7 separate regions of the Homo sapiens genome follow, and regions 1, 2, 3, 5, 6 and 7 are each linked to region 4. The links come from fine-mapping of genetic effects on plasma protein levels. A gene starts in region 4. Each other region holds a variant in brackets. All regions are shown on one strand. Distances are from middle to middle.

Region 1 (4,568 bases), 83 kb after region 4:
CACTGATTCACCACCCCAGCCTCCAAAGTAAACATGCTTCTGACTTTTATAATATATGCTTTTTTCTTTGCAGTTTTTTCACTGAAGCACAGATCTCTAATCATTACACTATAGTTTCATCTGTTGTCAAACTTCATATAAATCAAATCATACAGTAAATGATTCATTTTATCTGCTTCTTTTGATCAATGTTTATGTTTAGTGAGACTCATCCATGTTGTTGCTTGTAGCAGTTTGTTCACCTTCATTGATTCATAGTATTCTATTGTTTTATTATTGCACAAATTGTTATCCATTTTGTTTTATTTTTTTAATTGATGCATAATAGATGTACATAATTTTGGGATATATGTGATAATTTAATACATTCATATAGTTGGTAAAGATCAAATCTGTGTACTTGGGATATCCATTACCTTAAATGTTTGACTTTTCTTTATACCAGAACCATTTGAATTCTATTTCAAAATTGTATTCAAATTCAAAAGGCTACTTTGTAATGTATAATAGATGACTGCAAATTATATTAACTCTACTGATCTATCTAACGCTAGTTCTTATTTCTTCAATTGGATGGCTCGTTTGTACCCATTTAGCAACTTCTCTTGATCTTCCTCTTTTTTAATGTTGGTAGACATTTGGGCTTTCTCCAGTTTGAAATGTTTGTAAATAATATGCAGTTTTGTGTACATCTTTTGCTGCACGTGTCCACATCTTTCTTGGTTATATAGATGGGAGTGGAATTTCTATTATAGCATGTGCGTATTTTCAATATTAGTAGTTTACTCCAAACTCTTCTCAAAATGGTTGTCCCAGTTTATAATTGCACCAGCATTGTGTGATAGTTTCTGTTAATCTATATCCCTGTTAAAATGTTTCAGTCTCAATTTTAGTCATTAATGGGTTTCTAGTGGTATTTCTTTGGGATTTTCATTTCAGTTCTCTGATTACTTCTAAGATTAAAATATTTTCATGTATTTATTTGCCATTAGGACTGTCCTTTTTATGAAGTAACTGTTTAACTGTCTTGCTTATTTTGGCTAGCTTTTTATTTTTGATTTGTAGAATTCTTTATATATTCATATATGTGTGTGATATTTTCTTCCGTACATTGGCTTGCCTTTATCTCCCTTGATTATATCTTTTGAAGGCTATAAGTTTTTAATTTTCATGTAGTCCAATTAAAAAATTTTTCTGGTTTAGTGTTTTTTGTGTTTTGTTTAAAAAGCTTTATCCTACTCCAAGGTCATAAAGATATTCTCTTATAATACATTCTGAAAATTTCTAGTTTTGTCTTTTACATTTACACCTATATTATACTTAGTTTTGATATTTATTTATGATGTGACACGAGTACATTTAATTTTTTCCAATATTTTTTCCAGTTGTTTTAGTGATAATTCTTTTGTCTTTGTCTGTCTGAATAGTATTTTGACTATTCTGAGTCTGTTACATTCAATTTAAATTTTAAGATAATTTGTAAAGATAGACACACACTACCACACTCCACACCCACACATCCTGTTGTAACTTTAATGACCTTTTGAGAAGTTTTAGAAGAATTGAAGGATTTATTTCTTCATAATATCAAGTCTTTCCAAAATAAACGTTATACCCCTACATTTATATAAGTATTTATTAGTTTCTTTCAATAATGTTTTATTGTTTTCAATGTAGAAACCTTATACATCTGGTCTAGATTTACTATATTACATAATTTTGATGCCACGGTAAATAGTATGTCCTTTAACATTTTTATTTTCTAGTCAATTGTTATGGGAACTTTCAGAAATATAATCGATTATTTTTTGTTCATCTGTATTTTATTTTATTTGTTTAATTTCCAACTTTTAAGTTCAGGGGTACATGTGCAGGATGTGCGGGTTTGATACATAGGTAAATGTGTGCCATGGTTGTTTGCTGCACCAATCATCCCATCAGCTAGATATTAGGCCCAGCATCCGTTAGCTATTCTTATGATCCTGTCCCTCCTCCCACCCACCACCCTCTGACAGGCCCCAGTGTGTGTTGTTCCCCTACATGTGTCCATGGGTTTTCATCATTTAGATCCCACTTATACGTGAAAACATGCAGTATTTGGTTTTCTGTTCCTGTGTTAGTTTGCTAAGGATAATGGCCTCCACCTCTATCCATATCCCTGCAAACAGCATGATCTAGTTTCTTTTTATTGCTGCATAGTATTCCATGGTGTATATGTACCACATTTTATCCAGTCTCTCATTGATGGGCATTAGGTTTATTCCATGTTCTTGCTATTGTGAATAGTGCTGTAATGAACATACATGTACATGTGTCTTTTTAATTTGGGTGTAAAATAAAAAATTTATGG[G/A]TATATAAAATGATTTATATTCCTTTGGGTATATACCCAGTAATGACATTGCTGTGTCAAATAATATTTCTGTCTCTAGATCTTTGAAGAATTGCCACACTGTCTTGCACAATGATTGAACTAATTTACCCTCCCACTAACATTGTAAAAGCATTCCCTTTTATCCACAACCTCACCAGCATCTGTTGTTTTTCGATTTGTTAATAATAGCCATTCTGACTTATGTGAGGTATTTCATTGTGTTTTTGATTTTCATTTCTCTAATGGTCGGTTATATTGAGATTTTTTTCATGTTTCTTGGTTGTATATATATATATACATATATATGTGTATATATACATATATATGTATATTATATATGTACATATATAATATATATATGTATATATATTATATATATATGTATGTATGTATTTGAGAAATGTCTGTTCATGTCCTTTGCCCACTTTTTAATTTTTTTTTTCTTGTAAACTTGTTAAGTTCCTTATAGATGCTGGATATTAACTTTTGTCAGACGCAAAGTTGGAAAATTTTTTCTCTGACTCTGTAAGTTCTCTGTTTACTCTGTTGATAGTTTCTTTTGCTGTGCAGAAACTCTTTAGTTTAATCAATTTTTGTCAATTTTTGCCTTTGTTGCAATTGCTTTTGGTGTCTTTGTCATGAAATCTTTGCCTGTGACTGTGTCCTGAATGATATTATCTAGGTTTTCTTCTAGGGTTTTTACAGCTTTGGGTTTTCCCTTTAAGCCTTTAATCCATCTTGACCTGATTTTTGTATATGGTATAAAGAAGAGGTCCAGTTTCAATTTTCCTCATATTGCTAGAAAGTTTTACCAGCATTATTTATTAAATAGAGAAACCTTTTTCCAATGCTTGTTTTTGTCAGTCTTTTTGAAGATCAGATAGTTGTAGGTGTGCACTATTATTTCTGGGTTCTCTATCCTGTTCCATTGGCCTATGTGTCTGTTCCTATACCAGTACCATGCTGTTTTGTTTACTGTAGCCCTATAGTATAGATTTAAGTCAGTTGGCATGATGCCTCCAGCTTTGTTCTTTTTGTGTAGGATTATTCTTTTTGTGCCAATTGTGAATGGGATTGTATTCCTGATTTGGCTCTTGGCTTGACTGTTGTTGGTATATTAGAATGCTAGTGATTTTTGCACATTGATGTCGTACCCTGAAAGTTTTTTGAAGCTGCTTGTCAGCTTAAGAAGCTTTTGGGCTGAAACACAGTGATGGAGTTTTCTAGATATAGGAACATGCCAACTGATTTGACTTCCTCTCTTTCTATTTGAATACCCTTTATTTCTTTCTCTTGCCTGATTGCCCTGGCAGGAACTTCCAATACTCTATTGAATAGGATTGGTGAAAGAAGGCAACCTTGTCTTGTGCTGGATTTCAATGGGAATGCTTCCAGCTTTTGTCTCTACGGTATGATATTGGCTTTAGGTTTGTCATATATGTCTCTCATTATTTTGAGGTATGTTCCTTCAATATTTAGTTTATTGAAAGTTTTTAACATGAAGGGATGTTGCATTTTATTGAAGGCCTTTCTGCATTTATTGAGACAATCATGTGGTTTTTATCTTTATTTCTGTTTATGTGATGAATCACATTTATTGATTTGCGTATGTTGAACCAACCTTGCATCGTGGGAATGAAGCCTATTTAACTGTGGTGGATAAGCTTTTTGATGTGCTGCTGGATTCAGTTTACCAGTATGTTGTTGAGGATTTTTGCATCAATGTTCCTCAAGGCTATTGGCCCGAAGTTTTCTTTCTTTGTTGTATCTCTGCCAGCTTTTGGTACCAGGGTGATGCTGGCCTCATAGAATGAATGAGGGAGGAATCCCTCCTATTCAATTATTTGGAATAGTTTCAGTAGGAATGCTACCAGCTCTTCTTTGTACCTCTGGTGGAGTACAGCTGTGAATCTATCTGCTCCTGGGTTTTTTTTTTTTTTTTTTCTGATTGATAGGCTATTTATTACTGCCTCAATTTTCAGAACTTGTTATTGGTCTATTTAGGGATTCAATTTCTTCCTGGTTCAGTCCTGGGAGGGTGTATGTGTCTAGGAATTTATCCATTTTTTTAGATTTTCTAGTTTATGTGCAGAGATAATATTCTATGATGGTTGTTTATATTTCTGTGGGATCAGTGGTAATATCCACCTTATCATTTCTGATTGTATTTATTTGAATCTTATCTCTTTTCTTTTTA
Region 2 (4,568 bases), 590 kb before region 4:
ACAATATGGATTCTTAAAGTATTAGTTTGTTTGCTTATAATTATTAAGTCAGTTAGGCAATTCCATCAGATCTGCAAGTCTCAAATTCTCAAAAACTTAGACTGTAAAATTCCACTGATCCAGCCCAAGGCCATCCAAGAATTATCTTATTCTTTATTCACCAAAAATAATAATAATAATCCTTCAGTGCAAATTTTCCCATGTTTTCTATTAAATTAATTTATACATATTTGTTTAGCATAATATTCTTAGCCTGTGGGTAGAGTCACTGCAAGTGCAATAATGGGTGGTTGAGGCTCAGTGAGACATGCTCTTTCACTTGCTCTTTGTTCTTGGCTCATTTCACTCTTGTAATCACAAAAATGCAAGCATTCTGCAGTTTTCTCCTTTTTTATCCTGCCCTGATTTTCCATAAGGTTGTAATCTGGGTATGCGCCCCTAAATTCACTGATGCAACACTTCCTATTTCTACTAGCTAAACTTGATATACTGCTTTATCCAAGTCAATAAATTTCGGTTCCAATCTGTTCTGCTGAACTAAATTTACTCAACTGGTGCTAAAGGTATTTCAGACAACAGGAAACAGTAAGACATATATTTAGGGAAGATAGACCTTCTTAAAGTCCTTGAAAAAGCATTACTTTGACACCAGGCTTCCTTGCATATCAGTACATAGCAAAAGGCAAGGAAATCTATGGTATTTTCACAAATCGCTTTCCTTCACTCTTTCTTCCTTCCATTGCTTTAGGTAAAGTCTCACCTTTCCTCACATGGTTTACTGCCCCAGACTCTTGTTTTTTGTAATTCCCCACACCCCCCAACCCCGCCCCGCCAACTCTGCTGGAGCTTCATCTCCAGATTCTTACTTGTTCTTGTTACCTCCTTCTTTTTGTTTCTCTTTCCATTTTCCCTGAAGGGCTGGTGGTCTTCTCAGACATCTGCAAACCACAAAGAAAAGATGGAATACAAAAGGTATGGTCTGGAGGAAGGGAGAGTGGAGGGACCACAGAAAGTCCAGGAACCACAGCCTCTTATCTGGCCTCACCATCTTCAATATTCACGCCCCAAATTTAACCATCACAACGATGCTTGTCTAACATTTAGAACTAATCTTGCCACTTCGACTTACCTGCTTAACTAAAATGTTAAGGCTTCCTGTGACACATAAGTCACCTCATGACCTGTCCTTCATGTTGTCAGGATCTACCTCCTATCATTTCTGCACTTATCCTATGAAAAGCCAAGCAACCACATACCTTCCAGAACACACTCACCATTCTCCATGTGCCTCCTTGCCTTTGCTATTCAGTTCTTCTGTCTGGAGTACTTGTTATTCTTCTTCTCCTGCTGGCTAATTCTTATGGCTCTCCAAAACTTAAGTTCAGAGACTATCTTCCTGAGGAAGCTTTTATGCCCCCTCTTACCTCTCTGCTGGGCTGTGACTCTGTAACAGCCTAGGAGTCTCTCCATAAGAGCACTTGCCATATAAGCGAAGACGTTTTGGTCTGTGCCTGTGTTTTTTCCACTAGGCTATTTGTCCCTTGAAGTTAAGGGCTATGTTTTTCTCTTTAATGTACACACAGCATTTCTCAATGTAAGTGTTATTAACTTAAAATTTGAAGTGGAAAATTTTCTCTTTATGTAAAATGTTCTCTCTCTCTCTCTTTTTTTTTTTATTTGAGTCTGTCACCCAAGCTGGAGTGCAGTGGGATGATCACAGCTCACTGTAGCCTTGACCTCCCTGTGTTCAGGTGATCCTCCCACCTCAGCCTTCTGAGTAGCTGGGACAGCACATGCCAACATGCCTGGCTAATTTTTGTATTTTTTGTAGAGATGGTGTTTTGTCATGTTGCCCAGGCTGGTCTCAAATTCCTGGGCTCAAGCGATCTGCTTTCCCTTGGCCTCTCAAAGTGCTGGTATTACAGGTAAACCACTGCACCAAGCTCCCAGTGAAATGTTCTTAACTTTGTAAAACACTTAGTGTTCATGGCCCCAAGCCAATACATGTTTGTAAGACTCCAAGTCAAAGTTCTACATTCCCATTAGGTGAGTGCTATTATCCTTGGTTAAAACCATTATTGAACAGTACAAATGTGTGGTACAAAAAAGGCACTCAAATGTGTGCTGAATAAATGAAAGAATGAGTTAATAGATGAATTCGTGAATGGATGAATGAACACTTTTGCCCTAAAATTAATTAGTTATAATCTATTTTGGTTGCCAACAAATTCTAAGTGATTTAGTTGTTTTCCCTCAAATATCTCCAATTACTTTGAAGCAAGTCACTTCAGACAATTGCTAAGTGACAACTTTGTAAATGATGCTGATATCATTAATACAGATATTTCAATTATTTTAATTTCATAGCCAGATAATTTTTTTAATTGATATAGGTTTTTTGTTAACTTTAAAGCTTAGTGTATATATACTTACAACTGCAATACATAGAAATGACTTTTCTTTGCCATAACAAATACTGTACTACTTCAGATACAGCTATTATTAAAATATGGCCATTCCACAAAGCATGACAT[A/G]CGCCATGTTTCTAGAAGGGTAATTATAGTTGAAAATGTATTACAAATTCCAACAGATTCGTCCCTAAGATTTGAGAATAGGTGTTGTTTTGGCAGAAGGGAGATAATGCGTTATAAAATAGGCTTTTATCAATACTTTAGAGTTTCAAATCATGTCTTTCTGGCTGCATAAAAAAGTAGCTTTTGTATGTATGAAAATAGTAGTTTTCTAGTCAGCAGAGAATTATTACTCTACCAGTCTCTCACAGTAAAAGTAAAGTTATACATTGAATGTTGTTACAAAAAAAATAATTTCTATGAAAGTTGTGAATATACATAGGCTAAGTCTTGGAGCTTAACAGAAGACTTAGAAGACTATAGAAAGTTAGTCACTATCTGATTTAAAAATTTATAGATACACACACACACACACACACACACACACACACACACATATATACATGCATCTTGGAAATACAAACTTTACCTCTCCTTAACTGCTTTAGAACACACACAAAAAATACATTGATAGTTTTAATAAAGAAATATTCCTAATAGATTCTCTAGAAAACACATTATATAAATAATTAATTAATCCCTCCTCATCGCCCCTGAACACTGTGAGCTTCTACAATAATTTATTTTTCACTATACCCTATACTTTAGCCCTTTTTGCTCAATCCTCTCACCTCTCAGCACTGCCCTTCCGCCAGCACCTCATCCCTGTAGCTGGAAACTCTAGCATGGAAGTAAATTACAAAGAAAGAGCATGGGATTTAGTCAGAAGATAGGTGTCTGTCTTTTATTACCTGTCTGATTTTTGAGCTGGCTACTTAGCATCTCTGAGTCTGTTCCTTCATCTGTAGATTGAGGATAAAAGTAACTTAACATTAGAAATAGAGAAAAGTTTAGTTCTGTCCAAATAACCAAACTGTGTCTCACATACTAGGTTATAACAGGAAAATTTGCAAGTTTGCTCCTTGTCTCTAATATTTAACATTAAAAGCTGGAGAACAGTCCATTATCAAGGTACACTCAGGTTGGTTTAGTGATTCTTTTCTTAAACTTAGACTACCTACCTACATTTTTTTTTATCATGAGAGAGAGAGAAATTGGTCTTAAGGTTCTCCAGATAAACAAAACGAATAGTACATTGGTCCCATGATCTGCTATCTACCGGAGACCCAGAAAAGCCAGTACTGTAATTCCGTTTAAGTCTGAATGCCTGAGAGCCAGGCGAGCCCATGGTATTAATCCCAGTTCTTGGCAGCAGCAGTAGATCAATGTCCTAGCCCAAATAGGCAGTCAGGAAGCAAAATGGGCAAATTCTTTTTTCCTCTGCCTTTTTTTTGTATTCACGCATTTAATGGATTGGAGGATGTCCCTCTACACTGAAGAGGGCAATTTACCTTAACGAGTCTACAGATCAAATGCAAATCTCATCCAGAAACATTCTCATAAACACACTCAAAAATAATGTTCCATCTTAGCACTCAGTGGCACAGTCAGAAAATTAACCATCACAGGTATCTAGACTCCCTATGTTTTAAATTAGCTAATTATTTTTACTTTCGAACTTGGTCATTCTTACATGTTCCTGATCTCAGTTAATAAGACATGACCATCTACCATGTTAGACAATATATGAACTCAAAAGTCATCCTGGATTTCTTCCTCCTTCTCACCTTCACTTCAGTGTTCCACAAGAACCTTAATGCAATGTGCTCAAAATTGATCCTTCATCCTTCTTCCAGAATCTGTCTTTCCACTGTTCCTTATTTTGATGATCATCTATCCAGTCACATTAGTCAGAAACTGACAATTATTTAGGATTCTCTCTCTCTCTCTCTGAGAGGTGGTATATATATATATGCACACATTCACACACACACAACACCTCATATATATACACACATACATATGTAGATAGATAAATATATAGGTGGATGATAGATTGAGTGATCCTTTGGCTATTATATTTATAGTATAATGTGTATATCCTTTGCCTCTCTAATAGCCATTCCCTCTTTTCTTGCCCTTCACCCTTTCCCAATT
Region 3 (4,568 bases), 75 kb after region 4:
GCATGGGGCCTGTAGCCCCTTGCTTTTGGTACATTTCTGCCTTTTGCAAAGGGAATATTTATCCAATTCCTGTACCTCATTCATATCTTGAGGTAACTAACCTTTTTTTTATTTTACAGGCTCATAGATAAGAAGGGACTTGCCTTGTTTCAGATGAGACTTTGGACTTTTGAGTTAAGACTTTAGGGGACTGTTGGGAAGGCATGACTGTTTTGCAATTTGAGAAGGACATGATATTTGGGAGGGGCTGCGGTGGAATGATATGGTTTGGATCTGTGTCCCCATCCATATTTCATGTTCAGTTGTAATCTCCAGTGTTGGAGGTGGGGCCTGGTGGGAGGTAATTGGATCATGGGGGCAGTTTCTTATGGTTTAACACCATTCCCCCTTGGTGATGTCATTGTGACATTGAGTTCTTATAAGATCTGGTTGTTTAAAAGTGTGTGGCACTCCCCCCTCTCTCTCAATCCTGCTCTTGCCATGTAAGACGCCTGCTCTCACTTTGCCTTCCATCATGAGTAAAAGCTCCCTGAGGCCTCCCCAGAAGCAGATGCCACCATGTTTCCTGTACAGCCTGTGGCCATGAGCCCATTAAACTTCTTTTTATATAAATTACCCAGTCTTAGGTATTTCTTTATAGCAGTGTGAGAATGGACTAATACAACTAGATAATCTCAACTAACCTATCTTTCTATTTCTAGTAAAATAGATACTAGTTTGCTATTTCTTTCTTCCACCAGCTCAACTCTTCTGTTGAGCCCCACTAGTAAATTTTCATTTCAAAATAAAATTTCAAAATTTTATTATGCTTTTCAACTCCAGAATTTTTGTTTGTTTTTTTAAATAATTTCTATATTTTATTGATTTTCCTTATTATGACATTGTTCTTATACATATCTTTAATTCTTTAGACATGGTTTTTATTAGTACTTGAAAAATATGTTTATATATGTGTACACACATACAGATGTATATCTAACTCATTAAAAGTCTCTGTCTAGTGAACCAACATCCGAGCTTCTTCAGGCATATCTTCTAGTGAATGTATTTTTGCTTATACATAGGCCATACTTTTCTCTTTCTTTGTATGCCACAATATTTTTGTGGAAAACTAGATATTTTAAATTGCATAATATGAAAAATGTTGACATCAGAATTCCTCACTTTCATATTTGTTGTTGTTGCTATGTTGTAACACAGTGTGTGTCAGTGTATGCCTTCAAGATTTCATTGATTAACAACTCTACCTTAGTCTTCACATCCTGCTTTGTAGAGTCTCATCATCAGCCAGAGGTGAGAGATTATGGCCTTTCCTACTGTTCCTGGGCAAGCACATTGCCCTGCACATGTTCATGGCCTTCTAGATCTCTAGATGTATGTCTTCCTAAGAACATTTTATTCCCCATATTCCTTAAAGATTTAGAACTTTAAGACCTAAAGTTTTTGGTTAGTTTCTGTTTGTTTGTTCCAATTGGTATTGCTGCCCTAATCGGCTGTGATAAACAGTTACCACTGATTGTTTCTGACAAATGTCTTGGGTATAGAGCTTATACCACTGAGTGAATACTGAATTACATAAAACAAAAACAAGCTCTGTGAATGAGAATTCTCTAGGGAGCTGCCAAACATGCCAAACAGTAACAATATTTGTATGTAAGTCTTAGGGGGATGATCTAGTGCCCTCTCCAGTAGCTGCTAGATTGTTGAGTTTTACAGCTACTGTTGTTGCAAGACTGATTAT[T/G]TTGAAGGATATTGCAGAGCTGTGGCAAGGGGGATGCAAATAGAGAAAATTAACATGCCACAAAACTGGCTGTCGTTATGAAGACTCAGCTATTTTTCTTCAAAAAAATGCTCCTTGTAATGTTGCAAGCCTTTGGTAATTTCTAGAATGTAAAAAAAGTTGATTTTGACCATTTTTTGGGCAAGTGTTTTTTGTGCTTATGTTGGAGCTGACTTATTTTGTTATTCCAGAACTCTTGCGTGATGGTCTTTTAACTGGAATGCCTACTTATTACTCTTTTCCCCTCACAATACAGTCTTGATAGAGAAGCCTAAGAGAACTAGTAAAAGTATAAATCAGATCATATCACTACTCTGACAAAAAACTTTTGAATTGGTATTTCTTAATGTTTAGAATTAAATTTAAGTTTCTGATTATGGTCTACAAACCATTTTGGCTTAAGAGACTTTATAAGTGAGGTTCAAAAGCAGCAAAAAGGTAGCAAAAAGAGCATGGGGAATTACTTTGAAGCTGATATCTATACAAATCACATTTCATTTTAGGGGGAGGTGGAGTGTTGCTTTTGTTTGCTACTGACAATTGTAGTGATACAACTCTCTTATCTGTTGGATTATCTTGGCTCCTAACTGGACTTTTATTGCATCATCTCTTTCCCCTTAGAAACTACAAATTGCTGATTTCTGAAAGCCTGTTCTTCCCTATTACATTATTCTCCTCTCATTAGTTGTCTGTTTACTTTTACATCTGAATTTTAATCTATTGTTGTAGACAAGGAGCTGTGCAACTCCATTCCCCCTTCAACGAAGGAATTATTGCCCAACCCTGAAGATGGTAGCCAACCAAGAATTTCCTACATTCAGTTCCTTTGGGCCAGGCTCAGTTGCAGGGAGGAAACGTCACTGAGGTTGTGCATTCACAACCCATGGTAATCATTTACCCTGAATTATATATTAATTTATCCTGACTATATAATTGGGATTTAGATGCTTGTAAGATGGCACTATTGCATTTTTGGTCCTTGGAGTGCAGGGCAATGGCCTAATGAAAGCTTCTGAATATGCCCTCTCTGCCTTCAGCCAAGATAATAAATTTAAAAAAATAGTGCACAGTGAAAAACTGGGCATAGATGGAGAGTATAGAGTTACTATTAAGAATCTAAAAAATGAAGGGATGGTGATATTTATCACATATAATATTAACTTACCAGTTTGGCCACTACAGAAACTAGATGTATCCTGTAGAATGACTCTGCATTACAGCAAGCTCAAGTAAATAGTAGCTCTAACTACAACTACCGTGCCAAAGAAAGTATCTTTGCTAGAATGATTAATATGGCCTCAGGTATATAGTTATTCTCCAGGACTATGTTAATTCTCTTTTCACAATGTAGTCTAAAGAGATATGGACCATTTTTTATATCCTGAAGACTATTACATTGATTCATTGCATCAATAATATGTAGATCTGGCTGGATGAGCAAGAGATGGCTAGTCTTGCTGCAGGCTCAGTAAGACAAATTTGCTCCAGAGAGTAGGAAATAAACCCTAAAAGATTTGGGGGCTGACCACTTGAGTAAAATTTTAGAGGTTCAGTGGCCAGAGGCTGCCAGTACATCCTTGTCCAAAGTCAAAGTTAAATTATTACATATTGCTTCTTATTCTGCCATGACTAAGAAAGCACAGTGCTTTGTGGGCTACTTTATGCTCTGGAGACAGCTTATTTAACACCTAGGGATACTGCTTTGCCTGGATGCTGAGTGACAAAACAAATTTTAAAAGTTGCTATCTTTGAGTATGGATGGAGCAGGAAAGAGCTCTGAGCAGACTGAGGCTGTGATATAAGCAGTATTTCTTTTTGAACTATGCAATCTGTTGGAACCTACATGTTGGAAGTATCAGTGATAGGAAATGGGACCATGTTGATTTTGTGTGAAGCACAAGAGAGGTTCCTGGGGTAATGGAGAAATGCCATAAAACCAGGGAATATTATGTCTTTTGAAAAATAACTCTTGACAAGCTACCAGGCCTGACCATGGGACTGCAAGTGACCATGTGGACAGAACTATCATGAGCTAGGTCCTGTAAGTGTTACTAAGCCATAGTCAGATAATACCAACAGTAACCCTATTATAAGATGAAAGTGTGATATCCAGGATTGAGCACAAACAGGTTCAGAGGACACAAGAAATTTGCATAAACAGGTAGTTGAGGTCCCTATGGCTCCCACAAGTAATAGTACAAGCATTTCTTTCTCAGCTCATTTCTATGGCTGTATGACATACTGTAGGACTAAAATTTAAAAAAATGAAAAATTTCTGAGTTTGGCTTCCAGATGGGTCAGCTTGGTATGTAAGTATAGGCCAAATATGGATACCAGCTATGCTATAACCTTACTCAAGGATGCCTTGAAAAACTGTGGTACAGAAAAAATCTTTCCAATGGAGAGAGTGATTGTGATGTATCCAGGCCTTGACTTAGTATGAAAAGAGAAGTGACCCAAGGTTAGAATGCACACACACATTCATGGAAAAAGATTGGAAGATCATGGACAAGAAGATGTGGGATAAATGTATGTGGTTGAACATATGGGAGTGAATGAAGTTTGAGGATCTTTGTATTTCACATAATAACCACCAGCGAATATCAACAATTGAGGAGGCACTAAACAACCAAGTACACAAAATGGCCTAGCCAATTGTCATTAGCCAGACTCTTTCAACAACTACTCCAATGTTGGCAAAATAGGCTCATAGATGAAGTGGCCACAGTGTCCATTTCATAGTGATATAGGAACTGTGCCTAGGCCCAAAACTGTGAACTCCCACTTA
Region 4 (4,568 bases):
ACAAAGAACTGCACAAAAGGAACGAAACACAGGAATGAAGCAGCGAAAGCAGGGATACTGAAGCAAGAAAGCACCCCATGGGGTGGGAGTGGGCCCAAGCAAGCGGCTCAAGGGTCCGGTTACAAAGTTTTCTGGGTTTTAATACTCCTTTTGAGGTCCCTTATCGGTTACCCCTTATCTGCATGAAGGATTTGGTCCGTGGCTAATTAAAGGCTGAGGTGAATTGGCTCCCTATGCAGATGAAGGGATGGCCCATGCTTAGTCCACGGACAATCCAAGGCACTTTCCCCTTCCATCTGAGAGGTGGTGGAAGGCAGTCGATCGTAGGGAGAGTAGCCTTTGGTCCTTTGCTACTTGGGCATGGGGAGATGGGTTTTTTCCTTTTGGTCTAGCTTTAGGAAGTTTGCGTTAATTGGTTAACTGGCTTTAGGTTACCTGCCCCCAGACGCAGGTGTTTTCTCTTTTAGGAAGTCAGCACAAATTGGCCTTAGATTTCCTGCCCCCAGACCTTGGTGTTTTCCTTTGATTTAGCTTTAGGAAGTCAGCACGAATTGGCCTTAAGTCCTCTGCCTCCAGACCCTATTCTACTGCCTCACTGTGAATAGTGCTGAGATAAAAATGAATGCGGGTATCTTTTTGATATAATGAATTATTTTCCTTCGGGTAGATACCCAGTAGTGAGATTGCCTGATCAAATGGTAGTTCTATTTTCAGTTCTTTGAGAAATCTTCATACTTTTTTCTACAGAAGTTGAACTGACATTACCATCAATAGTTTATAAACGTCCCCTTATAACATTTACTGAACATTCTGTAATAATTCCCATAATTCTTAGATTTTTAATTCTTATTTTTATATTAAATGGATCAGTCACCAATACCAAGCTTTTTATAACATGGTTTCAGCATTCCTGAGTTTTGTACCCACACACTTTACATAGAGTAATAAGTCAAATTTTCTAAATTAATGAGATTAAAAGGTCTTATTAAAATAAATGTATGGAATCTAAATGTCTTTAAGAAGGTAACAGTTTCGAATTCTGACACAACAACAAAAAATCATGGTCACCATGATCTAGAATTCTGGCCCGATAACAATTATTTATTTACAGAAAATAAATTACATAGTAAGTCATAAATTCAGTCCAACAACTGGACTCAGCCTCCACTTAAATATAATCCATAATCTAATGTCAAAAACAATTTTAGAGTTAAACCAAAGAATCAGAAAGAATTATTGGCTGTAATGAACATCAAAAGATATATTTACTTCTAACAAGAATATATGGCCAGCTGATTGTTAATAAAACGGAAAAAAAATAAGGTAAGGAGGACGAGAAGCATTAGAGCTTTCCAATGTCTTCTGCATCCTGGGCATGTTATTTTTCTCAGTTCAACACACGTTTGAAGACCTATTATATTCTAAGCACTATGCTAGGTTCTGTAGACACAAAAATGATTAACTCTATTGTCAAAGGGCTTAGAATCACTTGTCTCTGAGGTTGAAAGCATTATTCTCACTCTTCATATACAGAAAACTGCAACTACGAGAAGTTTATTGCTGACGTTAAAAAGTGGCCCGGGGAGCTGGCTTTAAAACTAAGTGTTTCTGACTCAAAGAGACATTAGCCAAAGATGTCTTACCGGTTGAGAATCACTTACGATGCTAGTTAAAAATACAGATTCTCAGGTCCCTCTCCCTAGACACAGTGTTTCAAAAGATCTGAAATGAAGTCCAAGGAATCTCTGCTTTTGCAAATTATCACAGGGGATATTCATAATCAGGTGAAATTTGTTAAGAACACCACACATCTCACTGAAACGAAGTTTAAGCAAGTCTCTCAGACCAAGGTACAGGCAACTTTTTGTTTTCTTAAACTCTCTGGAGGGCGCAGAGTCACCTCCAAAAGTCCCAAATGAATCCCTTCACCCAGAGCAAAGAAGAATTTCTTCACCACATTTAAGTTTTTAAGATTTGACTTTTCCAGTTTTTGCCAATCCTCAGAGATCCAAACTATTGTCGCCTTATGCAATTCTCTGGCATCACAAGACAGCATCAAAAAACAACAGAGCACCACCCTTTCCCTCGTCTTCCTTCAGGTGCTGATTCATTTTGGATGTGCATCGCTAGGAAAAAGGGCTGCTGAATATAAATCGCAAAACTTCAATGGTGGATGACAACTTCTACACCCGTGAAGTTACACAGCTAGTTAATGGCGGGGCCAAGACCAGAATCTACACTTGCAGAACCTCTGCTCTGAGCTTTTCCCTACTCAACCTGACCTGTCCTGAAAGCGTAAGGGTGGCCTGGCCGCGCGTGTGGGACCGACCCGAGGAGGGACGAGAGACAGCAAAGAAGGCTGTGGTTCCTGCCCGGGAGGCGGGGGCTGCAGATTCCCCTCAGCTGCGCGTTTGCCTGGCCCTCACTTGGCAAAGGACAGCGAATGCAAATGAGGATGACTGTTAGGAATTTTTAACGAGTGTAGAGAGAGGTGTCAAGAAGAAGCCGCGAGAGAGGAGAGGGCAGGGACGCCTTCTCCCGTAGGCACAAATCCGGAGAGGACAACCAGGTCCGCGAGTGGCAATACGGGAGACCCCACGCGCCCCCAGCCTCGAGGTTCCTGAGCACCCATTCCGCCCCGGCCCGGCGTCCCAGTCTCAGCACAAAGGCCGCACAGGGCGAAGTTGCCGTCGGGTCCCCCGACCCGAGTCCCCTTCTTGGCGCCCCCGCCGCACCCCCCGCTAAACTTACCGGCAGACCCAATGGTTCTTCGATGCTGGAACAGCGGGAACAAGCAACACCCAACCACCCGAGAGCGACCCCAGCTGACCAGTGGAGCGCGAATCCCACGGACCCGGATGCAGATAAAGGCGCAGGAAGGAACCGCGGCGTGGCTGGCGGGCGCTGCGCATGCGCACCGCCTTTAGGACGCCTGAGGTGAGACGCGAGGAGTTCGGTCCGAGTGCGGTGCGGCTGGGCGCTCTTCTTGCCTGGAAGATCGCAGTTTCTGGGTCATCACTTTACGCTACTTTCCCCTCCCCCCCATCTTTCAAAGAGGGATTTGCAGTAGATTCTTTAGGCTTATGAGATTTAGTATGTAAGACCGTAGTGCTCACACGTACTTTGTTGCTTATGTTGCTGTTTGGCAACATGAATATATTTGCCATTTATGAATACATTTCTCTCTCTACTCCAAGCTATTGAATGCATATTTGCAAACGCAATGACAGATAAGCGTCTTGTGTCAAAAAACTCATCAAAGTTTGCAAAAGGGCAAACAGTACCATGGGAAATCGGGAGCGTCTCAGTAAGAGAAAACACTATATAATAGGGTACTGGCTTTTGCTGAATGAGTCTAAGAAAGGGATAGGGGAAGCTGGAATCAGCTTTGAGCTGGGTATCACAGATGTTTATACAGGAGTGGGAAGGAATTGGGCTGTGGAAATTATTGTAAAGAAAGCAGCTATCATTCAAAAGGAGAAAAGTGTGTTGTGTCTTCACCATGTTCCATCAGGAACACTGTTCCATTAATAACACCGTTTAGGGTTCTGTTAGGAACAATACAATCTTGACTCCTAGCCAACTTAAGGTTCTGTTTCTGTGGAAACTACAAGTTAAAAAAATGTAAAACGCTGTGTCCTCAAACTCGTTATATGAAGTTTTTCACCTGGGTTGTAAATCCAGCCTGCTTCTTTGAATGTAATGACTCCTCTTGCATCCTTTAGTGAAGAGTAGGATGTTACATTCTCGTTGATTTAGCTTCAAACAGCAACATTGCTCACATACTGATAATAGACAGGTTTATTAGTACTATCGCCTTCAGTAAGTTTGCAAAAGCGATTTTTGGCCAGATTCGGTGACTCACGCCTGTAATCCCAGCACTTTCAGAGGTCATGGTGCATGGATGGCTTGAACCCAGGAGTTGGAGACCAGCCTGGGCAACATAGCAAGACCCTGTCTCTCCAAAAAAGATTGAGGTAAAATGATGAAGTAGTTTGTAGGCTATGCATAGAATTTAGGCTTTGTATTGTAGGCAATAGGGAGTCACTTAAGCTTTATGAATTGAAGATAAGAGACTAGAACATACGTGTTTTAGAAAGAATGCTGTAGAAAGGTGGAGACTGAATTACAGTCTTGAATTACAGATATGTGCCACATAAGGAAGTTTAGGTAAAGAATGGACTGGATATTTGGCAATGGTCCCATAAGATTATAACAGAACTGAAAAATTCCTATCACCTAGCGACATTGTAGTAAACGTAAAGTTGTAGAGCAACACCACTCGTGTTTGTGGCTACATAGGTGTAAACCTACTGTGCTTCCAGTCTCATAAAAGTCTAGCACATACAATTATGTACAGGATATAATACTTGATAATAAATGACTATGTTACTGGTATATGTATTTGCTATATTATACTCTTTATCATTATTTTAGAGTGTATTCATTCTATTTCTATTTTTATTTTTATTTATTTGTTTATTTTTTTGAGACAGAGTCTCGCACTGTCACCCAGGCTGGAGTGCAATGGCACAATCTTGGCTCACTGCAACCTCTGCCTCCTGAGT
Region 5 (4,568 bases), 590 kb before region 4:
CCCAAATGTCCATCAATAATAGACTGGATAAAGAAAACGTAGCACATATACACCATGGAATACTATGCAGTCATAAAAAAGAATGAGTTCCTGTCCTTTGCAGGGGCATAGATGAAGCTGGAAACCATCATTCTCAGCAAACTAACACAAGAACAGAAATCTGAACACCACATGTTCTCACTCATAAGTGGGAGCTGAACAATGAGAACACATGGACACAGGGGCAGGGGGGTATCACACACCAAACCTGTCGGGGGGTGGGGGTTGGGGAGGGATAACATTAGGAGAAATACCTAATGTAGATGACGGGTTGATGGGTGCAGCAAACCACCATGGCACATGTATAACTATGTAACAAACATGCACATTCTGCACATGTACTCCAGAACTTAAAATATAATTTAAAAAATAATGTAGTGATAAAGTATGGGTTGAGGTGAAACATTCTATTATCCTATGATTAGGTCTCAGCCTCTTAGTGAGCCAGTGTCTCTAGGTTGTGATCCTCACAAGTGCTTCTCAGATTTTTCCCCTCTTAGGCAAGACCAGATGGCTAGAGGAGGCTGGAATTGGGTAATTCCCGTCCCCCTGGTCAGTTAGCTTCTGATAAAACCCCAATAGTGTAGGTGGTAAAATAGATTTTCCTGAGGGCAGGCCTGCTGGAGAACAGAATGCTCTGGCTACTTTTTTCCTTTCCCTGATGGAAGCTACTGGAGGGAAAACGCACAAAAATGTAAGCCTATACCCTAAGACTGGAGTTTTTAACTCCAGACTTGTTCACACTGAGCGTCCAACAATTCATCAATTGTAGTTCAGATTTTCCTGCCCCACTGCTGGTTCTCACAAAGGTTTCTGCTAGTGGGTCTCCCGTCTGGTAAACTTGGTTATCTTTATCTGCCTTTCTGTCTCAACAATTTGGGTGAGAGAGGCAACAGTTTTCCTTGTGACTTCAAGTTTCTGAGAGATCAAAGAAAAGTTGTGGATTTCAGTTTGTTCAGCCTTTTACTTGTTGTAAGGCATAATGGTGACTTCCAAGCTCTTTAAGTGCCAGATCAGAACACCCCCAACAGTTCTTTGACCTCTTCTTTTTAATGCTTTGACCTCCACCCCACCTCAGACAGTTACCCCCATAGCTTGTCTTAGACTTTGCCAATACCAAAGACTGGAAGTCTCCCCAGATCTCAACTTAAAGTATGCCACTTTACATAGTCATTTCTTTCTCTCCAGTTCTTTCTCTCATACATCAACTCTTAAATGTTCAACTTCAACAGGACCTAAAAGTAATTGACTGTAATATCTTCTGTCTGACCCTCACCCCTGAAATGTGCTCACTTCTGGTTTACTGTTTAATATATGGTCCATTCCTATAGTCTGTGCCCTGTATATTTATCCAATATTTATCCCTTCTTTCATTTCTCCAAGTTATCTGAAAAAATTACAACCCTAGTTAAATTCAGTTCTTTACATTCTCTATTCCTATACCCAATTAGTTGGATATTATTGAAAAAATGATCCATGCTAACTGATTTTACTTCTGCTTCTGGCCACAAATTTCAAGTGAGTCCTCAATGGCCTCCCGCACCATTCTACATTTACTCACTTATTTACATCCCTACTCTCCTAGACAAGCATTTTCCTGCTTGCTTTCTTCTCTTTAAACTTCCAACCACTATCACTTCATCCTTACTCTGATATGATAACTGCTTCCTGTTTCACTGAAAAAATAAAAGCAATCAGAAGATAACTTTCACAAGTTCGCACTTTGACATTTTCCTATCTAGCTATACTTGTCACTATACAGTCTGTATTCCTTCCTGTTATTACAGATAAAAGACCATAGTGAAGACTAACCCATCCACTTTCTCACAGTAACCTCAAACCTACTAAACAACTTCACTTTAGCCATCTTTCTCTTCTTCCATCTAAAAATCAAAAACAGAAACCTCTGTTGTTTCCATATTACACTATGGCTGCTATCCCATTTCTACATGTCATATGGTAGCAAAACATTTTTGTAATGTTATGTATTTGGGCTATCTTTACTTCTTAAACTCCAATTCCTTCTTGAGTCCTCTACAATCAAGATTTCTTTCCAACACACCTGTAAAATTATTTTCAATATCATTGATTATTTTCACATAACTAAAACCAATAACTTATACTCAATCCTTTCCTTGACCCATCACTGAAAATTCCATGGGTCAAGGAAAGGATTGATGGGTTCATCATTGAAAATCAGCAGCATTTCCAATAGCTTTTCAATTATTTATCTTCTTTAAAATAATTTCTTTATTTGGTTTCTGGGACACACGATTGTTCTCCATCTCATTAGCTCCTCCTTTGGAGTTCCTTTTGTAGCTTTCTTCTCTTTTACCTAACCCCAAAATGTTGATGCACCCTAGGATTCAGTTCCTAAATCTCTTTCTTATCTACATTATTTTTTTTCTATTCTTAGGTCCTTACTGACTACACTGGACAGCTACTAAATTTATAACTCTTGCCAGACTGCTACCTAGAATTGAATATACAAGTGCCTAATCAATA[C/T]GTTGATGCTGATGTCTATTAGGTGTCTCAAGTTCAGCAGCACAATCAAAAAAGAATTTCTCCTTTTATCTTCCAATGTTTAATTTTCATATTTTCTTCTATCTCTGTAAAGTTTTACTCTATCTTTCTAGTTACTCAGGCCAAAGATTTTGGTCCAAATGTTCAAGTCACCATTATTTCTCTCCAGAATTATTTTAAATAGCCTACCTGCTTTCTACCAGCTCCTACTGCACAATACACTCAGCACTGAAGACAAAATGATTCACTTAAAATTTAAGCCAAATTATGTCACTCTTCTGCTAAAAAACCTTTCATGATCCTCACCTTAGTCTTCTTGGGCTGCATATAACAAAAATACCATAAACTGAGTAATTTATAAATAACAGAAATTTATTTCATACAGTTCTGGGGGTTAGAATGTCCCAAATCTAGGCACTTAACACATGTAGCGTCTGCTTGAGGGCCTTTTCCTCTTAGTGAGTTACTTCTCTCTGCATCCTCACATAGTGGAAGGGGCTAGCGAGCTCTCTTGGGTTTCTCTTATAAAATTATTAATCTCTCATTACCTAGTTACCTCCCAAAAGCCCCACCTCTTCATATTGTCACACTGGGGATTAGGTTTCAACATATACATTTTGAGGGGACACAAGAATTGAGACCAAAGCCACACCTCACTCCTGACATGTTGGCAGGTTCTGCTTCAGGGTCTTTGCATTTGTTCTTCCCTTTGGCTAGAATTCCATTGAACTGATTCTCCAAATTGATTTTGCCTTCACCTTTAAAAATTATTTTTAATAAACTTCACATTTTAGAGGAGTTTTCAGTTTACATAAAAATGAAGTAGAATGTATATAGAGTTCTCATACAGTTCCTCAACCCTTCCAATCCCATTCTCCTATTATTAACATTTTTCATTAATGCAGTTCATTTGATACAATGTATGAATCAATATTGATATAATATCAACTAATGTCCATAGTTTATATATTTACACTTGGGCCCACTCTTTGTGTTGTAAACTCTATAGGCTTTGAAAAATGTATAATGACATGTATTTGCCATTATGGTGTTATACAGAATAGTTTAATTTCCCTAAAAATTCCTGAATTCCACTTACTTATTTCTCCCAACCTTCTCCAAAAGCCCTGGCAACCACTGACCTTTTTATTATCTCCCTAGGTTTCCTTTTCCAGAATGTCAGATAGTTGGAAAAATATGGTATGCAGCCTTATCAGAATGACTTTTCACTTACCAATATGCATTTAAAGTTCATTCATGTCTTTTCATGGCTTGATAACTCATTTTTTTAGTTCCTTAATAATTCATTGCATGAATGTACTGCAGCTTGTTTATTTATTCATCTATTGAAGAACATCTTGGTTGCTTCTATGTTTTGCTAATTATAAATACAATTGCTATACAATTTGTTTGCAGGCTTTTGTATGGACATGAGTGAGTTCTCATTTGTTTGGATAAATAACAAGGAGCATAATTTCTGGATTGTATAGTAAGAATATATTTAGTTTCATAAAAGAACTTTTAAATGGTTTTCACTTGTTTTTCTTAACTTTTAAAAGTCTTTATTCAAAAATCCACTTCTTGTTTTGGGCTTTTCTAAAGATCCAATTTAAAATTGCAAGCCACTGTTCCTCTGCCATGACCTTGACACTTGATACACACTGAATGATTATGTTTCCCCCAAATTAATATGTTGAATCCTAATCCCCAGTGTGGTGGTCTTAGGAGGTGGAGTCTTTGGGAGGTAATTAAGTCATGAATGTGCAGCCCTAATGAACACGGTTAGTGCTCCTATAAAAGAGGCCCAACAGAGCTCCCTCTCCTCTTCTACCAGGTGAGGATGCATTGTGAAGATGGCTATCTATGCACCAGAAAGCAGGATCTCACCAGATACTGAGTTTGTTGGTGATTTGTTCTTGGGCTTCCAGTCTCCAGAACTATGAGAAATAAATTTTTGTTGTTCAAAGCCACGAGTCTACAGCATTCCGCATAGCAGTCCAAGTGGA
Region 6 (4,568 bases), 11 kb before region 4:
ACAGAATGCCAAAGTACAACAATTTATGAATTTTTAATATGGAGACATAAGGCCAGACCTACATATGGTTAATATGCATTGACTGTTTCTACTATTAAGTATGTATCTGCTTATAAATATATATTAATTATAGACATTAAATTATCTAGATTTGTAAAAGTGTTCTGTTTCTCCTCTTAGGTATACATATCCCTAACATTTATATTTCTCTATATATGTGTAGAGGGAAGGATGGGATCAGGAAAATACAAGCTTCAGGAAAAAAATATGAAGTCTACTAAGATCTACTACTACTGACCTCACTGATGATTTGGGCCTTATAGAAGTGTACAGCTAAGCTGAAATTATGAGCAAAGGTTAATAACAGAGCTGGGTCAAGGTATTTGCTTGTTGGCTATGAATAACTGAGGTTCCTGATATAAAATTATTTTTTTAAATGTGGCTAATTCTTATTCAGCCTTTAAGTCTAAATTAAGATATCAGCACCTCTATGAAACATCTCTAAAACTCACTGTCTGGAGTAAATGTCATTCCTGTGTTCCTACAGTTCTAAGGGTAGAATGTACATGCACTCTTCATGAAAGTAAGGGCTTTATCTTCATTACTATATTACCATTTAGAATAACAAGTGACACATAGGACGCACTTATTAAATAATGGCTGGATAAATGAATGTATGGTTGCTATTCTTTGGTCAGCTCGGTATAGTTTATTCCACCTCCCACCTTGTTCTCTTCTGCCTTGCTCCCCTCACCAGAGGGGCTGGAACAATTTTAATTTCCTATATCCCTCTTAGGTAAAGTGACTGTGGTCTAGAGATAAGCACTTGTCTCAGGCTGAGCCAATCAAAATATCTGTCTGGATCTGAATCTTGACCAGGGATACAGTTAACGAAGACAGCATGGTGAACTGAAGCACTGGATGACAGCACTGCAGGGAGAAGATTGATGAGTTTCTACTTCTGAGATCTGAGGTTCTCTGTTTTTCCAAAGACTTGGTTGTTTTAACTTTTCCTTCAGTTTGTGAGTTACCCTAGAATCATTCCAGTTAATTTACTTTTGATCCCATTAGTTATTTCCTTTTTCTACCAAAGCAAAGAATCCAAGCATGCAACCAAATCAGAAGGTTAACATTTTCTCCACTGTCTTCTTTTATTTTTACTTTTTAAAAACACTATTAGGCCGGGTGCAGTGGCTCACACCTGTAATCCTAGCACTTTGGGAGGCCAAGGCAGGTGGATCACCAGAGGTCAGGAGTTCGAGACCAGCCTGGCCAATGTGGCAAAACCCCATCTCCACTAAAGATACAAAAATTAGCCGGGCATGGCGGCAAGTGCCTGTAGTCACAGCTACTCAGGAGGCTGAGGCAGGAGGATCGCTTGAACCTGGGAGGTGGAGGTTGCAGTAAGCCAAGATCAAGCCACTGTACTCCAGCCTGGGCAACAGAGCGAGACTCTGTCTCAACAACAACAAAAAACCCAAGACACTACTGCGTTAAGATATTTTAAAAGTTTATATATTTAGATTTTATTGTAAAACTAGATTTTTAAAATTATTTATTTATTCATTTTGAGACGGAGTTTCACTCTTGTTGCCCAGGCTGGAGTGCAATGGCACGATATCAGCTCACCACAACCTCGGCCTCCCAGGTTCAAGTGATTCTCCTGCCTCAGCCTCCCGAGTAGCTGGGATTACAGGCATGCACCACCACGCCCAGCTAATTTTGTATTTTTTTTTAGTAGAGACGGGGTTTCTCCATGTTGGTCAGGCTGGTGTCGAACTCCCAACCTCAGGTGATCTGCGCACCTCAGCCTCCCAAAGTGCTGGGATTATAGGTGTGAGCCACCGGATCCCAGCCCTAGATTTTATTTTTAAAAATCCATGTTTGTATATCTTATTGCTGGGGTTAAGTCAGGAATTGCATGATACACCTTTTACCCTTTCTCTGAACACGTTTGCCATCAGAGGAGGAATTAGAACATTTGAGTATGTATTTCCTCCTTTTTCTTTCCCTCTTCCCTCAGAGGAAAGGGACCTCTGCTCTAATTCCCTGGAATGAGCAATAGCAGATTAACATTTTTGAGCTCTTCTCATTCTACTGTTTCCAATTCAAAGGGCAGGAGTGAAAAACCCCATTCTGGCTTCAAGCCCAAACTGCAATCTCTATTTCAACTTTACCTTTAATAAAGCTGATATTTTGATCCCATTTGGCACAGTTCTTAGAGTTTTTATTA[A/C]CCAAACCCTGGAACAAAAGAAGGGTAGTTGTAAGACCCAGATGCCAATCCTCATCTAAAAATCCAATGATGATAAACCTAGATCAACAAATGAGATTCTTTCATGAATACATATCCAATAATAGGGCATCCCAAATAAGGAAAAGTTCAAAGAAAATGCAATAATCCTTCTCTCTCTCTGCACAATTATGTCCTTTAGATGGTACATATAAAATGTCAGGCATTGGATCATCCATGACTACAGTGAAGATGTTAATGTAAGAGGCACAGGAACTCTCTTAAAATATATTTGGGAGCGGGGAGGAGCGGGGAAACAACTACAGGAAGCTTAAGACAAACTGGTTAAAAAACCAAGTCAAATTCTTTTTAGTGGTGTCAGTGATAAACATATATAATTATAACTTATGCAACATCTATTTCAAAAGGAGAACTGAGGTGGTTTATACTGAAGAAACATAACCCCCTCCCAAAAAAAATTAGCTGAAAAGAAGTACGAAATGATTTAAAGTTATAAGGAAAGAGGAAAGTTCTACCAGACATCTTGGATAAGAATTACAGGCTTAAACATTATTTTATGCTATGAATGCTTTCTGGAAGGCAGGCAAAGGAATAAAATCAAGTGTTCTTATCAGTGTTATTCCCCATAGTAAAATCTATTTCCTACCTTTGGGTCTACAAGAGATTTGTCACATGCATACTTATGTAAGGTCAATAAATTAACAAGGGGGAAAGAAAGTCTACAAATGAAGATATTTTCAAGCAGCCACTTTTAATAATGAACCTCAAACAACTAAGAGCCTTTTTTTGCATTATAGTAAATGAGTGAAAACATTTTTTGATATAAGCAGTTGAAGTATGTGGTACTCCAGTAATTCTACCAGATTTTGGTGTGGAGCTTAGAAAATCTAAAGATTAGATGGTCTATGCACCCCTCAGACACTCTCAAATATCTACTGTCTAGCCTGAATATTGGAAGGTACAAATGGTTAATTATCTCAAAATTGAGTCATACGTACAAAGCAGGAGTATGCAAATGTTCTCTAGGATTACTGAAGTAATATTAGTAAATTTTATTTAAAACAGATAACCTTCTAATTTGAAAAGCAATAGTCTAACTTGGTTTCTTGCTCCAATAAACAACCATTCTATCAAGAAAGTAAATGTTATTGACTCTGCTAGGTAGAAGTAAAAACTATCTTAAAGAGAAGATTTCAGTCTTCCTGGATGTCCCTAGAGGGAATTCGGTAAAAATCCCAAGGAATTCAGTAATTCTAAGGGACAATTATTTCCGCATTTACAGTTGAGAGAGAAAGAGAAGACTGAAGTAGCACTTATGGAGTACCAACTATATACCAAGCACTGTGTAAGGCATTTTATACATGTTACAACATGATTAATTCTCACAAATTTTGGAATGTTTAATATTAATCCTCTTTTACAAATGATGTACCTATACTGAACTTCAATAAACTTTCCCAGGTCATACAGATACTAAGTGGCTAAAACAGGATACAATTTTACGTCTGACTTTAAAACCAAATTTCCCCCAATGATAATCAACTATCTCAACCATACTTGGCCACTTCAAGTATAAATTAACCTCAGGACAGCTCTATTGAAGATCAAATTCATGTAATTTTGATCAGTGTTCTATTAAGTTAATAATAAGTTATATACAGATAATTTACAGCATTAGTATTTTTAGTTGAATATTAAAGAATCTGGCAAAAAATTTTGATTTTAGTTTAGTTGATGTTGAACTATTCTTATAGCAATTAGCTAGCTGTCTGCGATAGTTTACACTGATAATAGAAAACCACGTTGTCATTACAAAGGAAAAAACTTATTTTTAACTGTAGATTATATATACACACACATATATAAATTACAAGTGGAATTTGGTAAATTAAACATTAATTTTGGAATTTATTATGACAATTATACAGCTTAACTCATATTAACTTAAGGCTGGTAAGTAAAAAGTTTTACATCATTCTTAACTGATTACTCAGTAAGATGAAACAATTAAAGTAATCTACTAAAATCCACCTGTTCCTCATGCAAACGTTTAAACTCTGTAATTTGATAAGTAGGCTGGCTAGAGTTTTAAAGAAATAGTAAAAAGAAGCTATCATTTAGGTAAAGAAACATATTACTCATTTTGAAAGATGTGGTAAACTGTCAACTTTAAAGAGGTAATTAACAGAGTTTAACGGGGATTGGGATCTACCTCTCAAGGCATAAGGTAAACAATTCCAGCTGTCAATTTGAAGATTAAGACGGGAATTTTAAGATTATTTTCTGAAGAAAATGAAAACAGGAATCAGTAGCAGAA
Region 7 (4,568 bases), 240 kb after region 4:
ATGCTGCCAGTTTGCCAAAGAATGGCTGACTTTATATGTCCCTGGATTAAAATTGGCATCTTGCCCTAAATCCCTGGTGTGAGAACATGTTTGCAGCTTTCCTCCTTGTCTTTTCCTCACAGTGTCTCCAATCCTATCCCCCTGTTAGCTCCAGTGCTTATAAGAAGACCAAGTGCTTTCCCTTGGCCTGGGTTGCTCAGGTCTCCAGTGGAAAGGTAAGCTACAGAGGGAGGCTCTCTGCCACTCTCACATACTGAGGCTTCATTCACTTCTACTAGCTGGATGTCATCACGGGAGCTGTTTTCCTTCATCCTCCCTGGGATCTGGGGTCTTATTCACAATTCTGGTGGATTCCTGTTTTTCCTTCTCGAATTAAACCCCACAGAGTTTATCGTTATGTATTGCTTGCTATTTCCAAACGGTTGAGGCATGCTAAAATCCTCTAATCTACCATCTTGGAAAAAATTTAATTTCTTCTTTGGAAGATTTATTTAATACCATAAGAGAACCTGTGCTATCACTTTACTGAAAAAGAAATGACCACATTATGGGTAAGTGTTTAGAGACAGCAATGCAAGTTTCAGAAGAGTTTATAGAGATTGCTCACTGAGAAACTTAATCAAGATTACCTGGTGGCTTGCAATTAAGAATTAGGGCCAATGTAAATACTTGTCATATTTTGAGATCTAAAGCCAACACAAAATGATATTAATGTAATTATCTGTGATAGTTCTTTACTCAAGTAAATAAAGTAAATAACATTTTTTCACTTTCACTGCATTGGTTTACTTTAATTACTTTCTATTTATGGCTAATGATACTTGATATTCTATGTTTTGTATTAATTTAAGAATTCCTTTTTTAAAACTAAATTTATTCTAGAAAAATAAGTCGTTTTATTCAAAACATATATTAAAGGTTCTTGGATATGAAAAACTCCTAAAATGTATACATTATTTAAAAAGTATAGGAAAATGGGATTCTCATAATCTTTACATGTTACTTCTTTAAGCACCCTGACTGACTCTTTTTCTGGCCTTTTGCAACATTTAACAATTCTTATGGACAATAGTTATAATTTTATCCATTCAAGATTTTATTTCTTGCAAGTTGAACTAATTTCATCTTGTTTTCCATCATGAAAATATTGTGGCTTTTTCTTTTCTGTAGTTCAGTGAGTGGGAGGGAGTGGGACTCATCAGGTTTTTCTTTCCCATAGTTTGGCAAGCAGGAGGGAGTGGCAATCAGAGGCCTTTTTGCCCCTGAAGCTTGGCAAACAGGAGGGTTACACCTCTTTCATTCCCACTGCCCACAGCTTGGTGAGTTCCAGGTTCTTGTCCCATGACCAAGAGGAATAAGGTATGCAGACAGGGGAGAGAGACTAAGGCAGAGAAGAATGCTATTGAGTAACATAAGAAAAGCTCTCAGCTGCAAGAGGGGACCCTGAAAACAGGTAGCCATCTGTGAGGCTGAGTCCAGGGTTTTTATGGGCTTAGAATGGGGGAATGTATGGGTGGTCTTGGAAAAAGAACCATCTGATTGGTTAAAAGGCATCATCCAGAAGGAAACAATAGAGAAAGAGAGTAAGACAGGGATTGTGGCAGACTGTCACAGTTACTTCTTGAGACCGTCATTACAGCAGTTACTACTGTTACTGCTTGAGGCTGTCATTACAGCAGTTACTACTGTTACTGCTTGAGACCATCATTACAAGACTGAACAAAGGGATGAACATAGAAAATGATAATAAAAAACAAAAGAGACTGTTTTAAAGGAAAGGTCCAGGGGAAGAAGAGAGCTCCCTGCTTCTAGTGGGCAAAGGCAGCCCCTGAGCTTCCACTGCCCTTCATATTTATCGGGTAACAAGAGCAAGGAGGAGGAGGTAATGATTGGTCAGCTGCTTAATTGATCACAGGTTCATATTATTACTAACAGGCTTCAGATGTACCTAATCACAAGAAACATTGGACTTGGGGCATGATTGCCCTCAGCATTCTTTCTGGGTGGCAGATGTAGTTTGTCAGTTTGCCAACATTCTGTGTTTATGAGAACAGTTTGCTGTTTAGTCATATAGCCTCCAGTGGTATACTGAGTTGATCACGACCCTCAGTCTTTCGGCCTCCAACAAGGGATAGATGTTTTCACTCTGGTCTTGAACTCTATCTGGAACTAGCAGCTCGGTTTTCAGGTTTTAAACTGTCTTTGGCTCGAAGGTCAGGTTTCACTGGGTCTGTCCCTGTCTACCTGGGAATTTGTCTGTCTCCTGTTGCTATCAGTAGCTACTACTTCATATTACATACACTGAACCATGTTACCTATTACTGGATTGTGACAAAATGTAAAAAGTCATTTCTACCAACTGTTTGGGTTAGTAAAACGTATCTATAAGAGAGGCTGAGTACT[A/C]TTAATTACCCTTTACCAAGTTGCAGAATACCAGGAAGATAATCTTAAGATTACCATGCAATATGTATTTTAGCATGCAATATATATCTTAAATTTTCTCAGCAATTGCCTAAAAATTATGAAGAGATAATGATGAAACACATATCATTCAAATATGCTTCCCTTGACCTGAAATTCTGATTTAAAATCATTTGTAAAAAGCATATTATTTTATGTGAATTAAAGTCAAGTGGTAATAGCAGGCCTAGTAACTAAATCAGTTGTCTGTATTAGTTTCCCTAAGAGAAAATGATGATAGTCCAGGGACAGAAAGTCACAGAAGACAAGAGTGAGTATTGACAGAAAATGTAGTAAGCCTGTGAGAGAAAAACATACTTTGCCTTAACAGATGGTTTAAAAATGGTCGAATTTTACTTAAAAAAGAATGTACACACATCTTTCAGAAAGAAAGAAAGGCTTCAGTAGATCAATTTTAAGATGTCAGTTTGTCTCAATACACAAAAAGTTAATAATTAAAGATTTTGGCAATGAATACTAAGAAAAAAACATCTTTAATCACATATTACCACAGTAATACATATGTTTCTATTGTTCAACTAGATATCAATTACTGATGATACTACTGGTTTAAAAAAGATTTTACATCTTGTGATAAATATGCTGAAATTTTTTCTTATGCCTTATTTTCAAATGGCTATTTTTTAAAATGTATGGTTATTAAAACATCTTAGCCTAATGATGGTCCACAGCTGTATCACTACTACCCAACAATATAACAATAATAGTTCCATCTCAGTGTGTCCAAAAATCACATTTCCTATGGCATAAAAGAGGTCAAAAACCAAAGAAAAGAGGCACCCTCCTATTAAAGAGAAAAAGAAAATTGGTGCCTTTCAAAATATGAGTCACTAAAGTGAATGGGCTACGATTGCCTTAGGAATAGACACATGCAGGCGTGAACCACACGCGCACGCACACACACACACACACACACAGCACTTAAGCTACCACTTTTCCAAGAAGGAATTGAAATGAGAAAACAGAGCCAGCCCAAATGCAAAGAAAATATAACAACTCATCTTTGTCACTTCCACCCCTTTTTAGAGCAGTTTTCACTTTTGACGCTAGGTTCTATTGTTACTTTGGTAGCTTGTTTTGTCTTGTGTAGAATAATGCAAATATGAGTGTTCCATCATGATCTTTCTAGCATTCTTCCTTAAGCAGAGCTCCCTTGAGAGTTCTTCAAAGAGAAGTTGAATGATTAATCTGATTTTGCTTCCCTGGGATTACTCATTAGTAAGGTAACAATGGGCACTCTTCTGTTTTAAAGTCCTAACATCATTGCAATTCATCCCAGAGGTGATATGAATTGTTCCATTCTATAAGAGTCTGAAGAGCAGCCAGTCCTTTCAGAAATGTACCTCTGTCAAAGAAACTGGAATCTGCACGTTCTCTTCTTGACTAGTGAAAAGTAATCTGTTTATTTCCTATGGGGCTATATAATTTTGTGGGTGACTAAAAACAGTGAAGATATTATCAGCTTAATCCTTGGAATAGTGTAATATGCTTTGCAATAAAATTTGTGACTCTCATAAAATATTGAGGTCTTTAATGACCTGAAAACTTCTTGCTAAAAAAACTGTAGATTGATCAACATATGTTTTGTGTTTGTGTTTAATGTTGATCATTAGACTGCTCTCTCTGTATTCTCCTTGCCACTTTCTTTCCCTCACTCACACTTAGCCCTAGCCTTCCACTGGTTATGTGCTCTGCCTCTCCCATATGCCCTCTTAAGAACATTAAATTTAGTGCCATATCACTGCAGGCATTTCTCCCTCAGAATTCCTAAGTTGGTCTTCCAATTTCTAATTTAATATTTTTGAGGCATCTCATGTCTTTGACAGCTTTGATTTATAGAGAAAGATTATTCCCCAGTCCCTCTTCACAACAACTCACCCCTTTGCTTGACTAGATTTTATTTTCTTTAAAGAAAGAGGACATGCCAATTTGGTTAGTTCAAGTTCATAACAATTGACTGAGCCACATTGGTGTGTATATTTTGTCTAAGTGGGAAGACTCCTCTTATGAATGGTTACTTCCTTTTTCTGTGACTGAATGGATCAAGGAATTTAAAATAGGCCTCTCTCTTTTTCTTCCTTTCTCTA

Alleles and levels. Positions count from the first base shown, and alleles are read on the strand shown. Strength reflects both the effect of a copy and how common the allele is. Not every link is listed here.
In carriers of allele A in region 1, the plasma level of the protein whose gene starts at base 2,834 in region 4 tends to be lower than with G alone (moderate association).
As copies of A replace G in region 2, the plasma level of the protein whose gene starts at base 2,834 in region 4 goes down (moderate association).
For the plasma level of the protein whose gene starts at base 2,834 in region 4, allele G in region 3 goes with a higher level than allele T (moderate association).
With allele T in place of C in region 5, the plasma level of the protein whose gene starts at base 2,834 in region 4 is higher (moderate association).
As copies of C replace A in region 7, the plasma level of the protein whose gene starts at base 2,834 in region 4 goes up (moderate association).

Evidence for each region. PIP is the chance, under the fine-mapping model, that this variant and not a neighbour inherited with it causes the effect. The UK Biobank Pharma Proteomics Project read protein levels with antibody pairs (Olink). The fine-mapping took linkage between variants from a reference panel, not from the people measured, so its PIPs are less certain.
Region 1: its variant is fine-mapped to the plasma level of the GNPDA2 protein (UK Biobank, PIP 0.95).
Region 2: its variant is fine-mapped to the plasma level of the GNPDA2 protein (UK Biobank, PIP above 0.99).
Region 3: its variant is fine-mapped to the plasma level of the GNPDA2 protein (UK Biobank, PIP above 0.99).
Region 5: its variant is fine-mapped to the plasma level of the GNPDA2 protein (UK Biobank, PIP above 0.99).
Region 6: its variant is fine-mapped to the plasma level of the GNPDA2 protein (UK Biobank, PIP above 0.99).
Region 7: its variant is fine-mapped to the plasma level of the GNPDA2 protein (UK Biobank, PIP above 0.99).

The regions. Positions count from the first base shown.
Region 1 is chr4:44,806,945-44,811,512 of GRCh38, forward strand. No RefSeq gene overlaps it. Among named protein-coding and RNA genes, the nearest start is that of GNPDA2, 83 kb to the left of the region's middle. The variant G/A (reference allele first, on the strand shown) is at 2,351.
Region 2 is chr4:44,130,867-44,135,434 of GRCh38, forward strand. No RefSeq gene overlaps it. Among named protein-coding and RNA genes, the nearest start is that of LINC02475, 120 kb to the left of the region's middle. The variant A/G (reference allele first, on the strand shown) is at 2,535.
Region 3 is chr4:44,799,202-44,803,769 of GRCh38, forward strand. It overlaps LOC105374440 (a long non-coding RNA gene), which reads left to right and starts at 1,069. Exons shown (of 3, transcript XR_925278.4): 1 at 1,069-2,666. The variant T/G (reference allele first, on the strand shown) is at 1,742.
Region 4 is chr4:44,723,723-44,728,290 of GRCh38, forward strand. It overlaps GNPDA2 (glucosamine-6-phosphate deaminase 2), which reads right to left and starts at 2,834. Exons shown (of 7, transcript NM_138335.3): 1 at 2,752-2,834. RefSeq lists a silencer at 2,250-2,544 and an enhancer at 3,037-3,166.
Region 5 is chr4:44,137,802-44,142,369 of GRCh38, forward strand. No RefSeq gene overlaps it. Among named protein-coding and RNA genes, the nearest start is that of LINC02475, 120 kb to the left of the region's middle. The variant C/T (reference allele first, on the strand shown) is at 2,545.
Region 6 is chr4:44,712,419-44,716,986 of GRCh38, forward strand. All of the region lies in intron 4 of GNPDA2 (glucosamine-6-phosphate deaminase 2), which reads right to left. Among named protein-coding and RNA genes, the nearest start is that of GNPDA2, 12 kb to the right of the region's middle. The variant A/C (reference allele first, on the strand shown) is at 2,234.
Region 7 is chr4:44,962,250-44,966,817 of GRCh38, forward strand. It overlaps LOC124900850 (a long non-coding RNA gene), which reads left to right and starts at 3,621. Exons shown (of 2, transcript XR_007058449.1): 1 at 3,621-3,704. The variant A/C (reference allele first, on the strand shown) is at 2,404.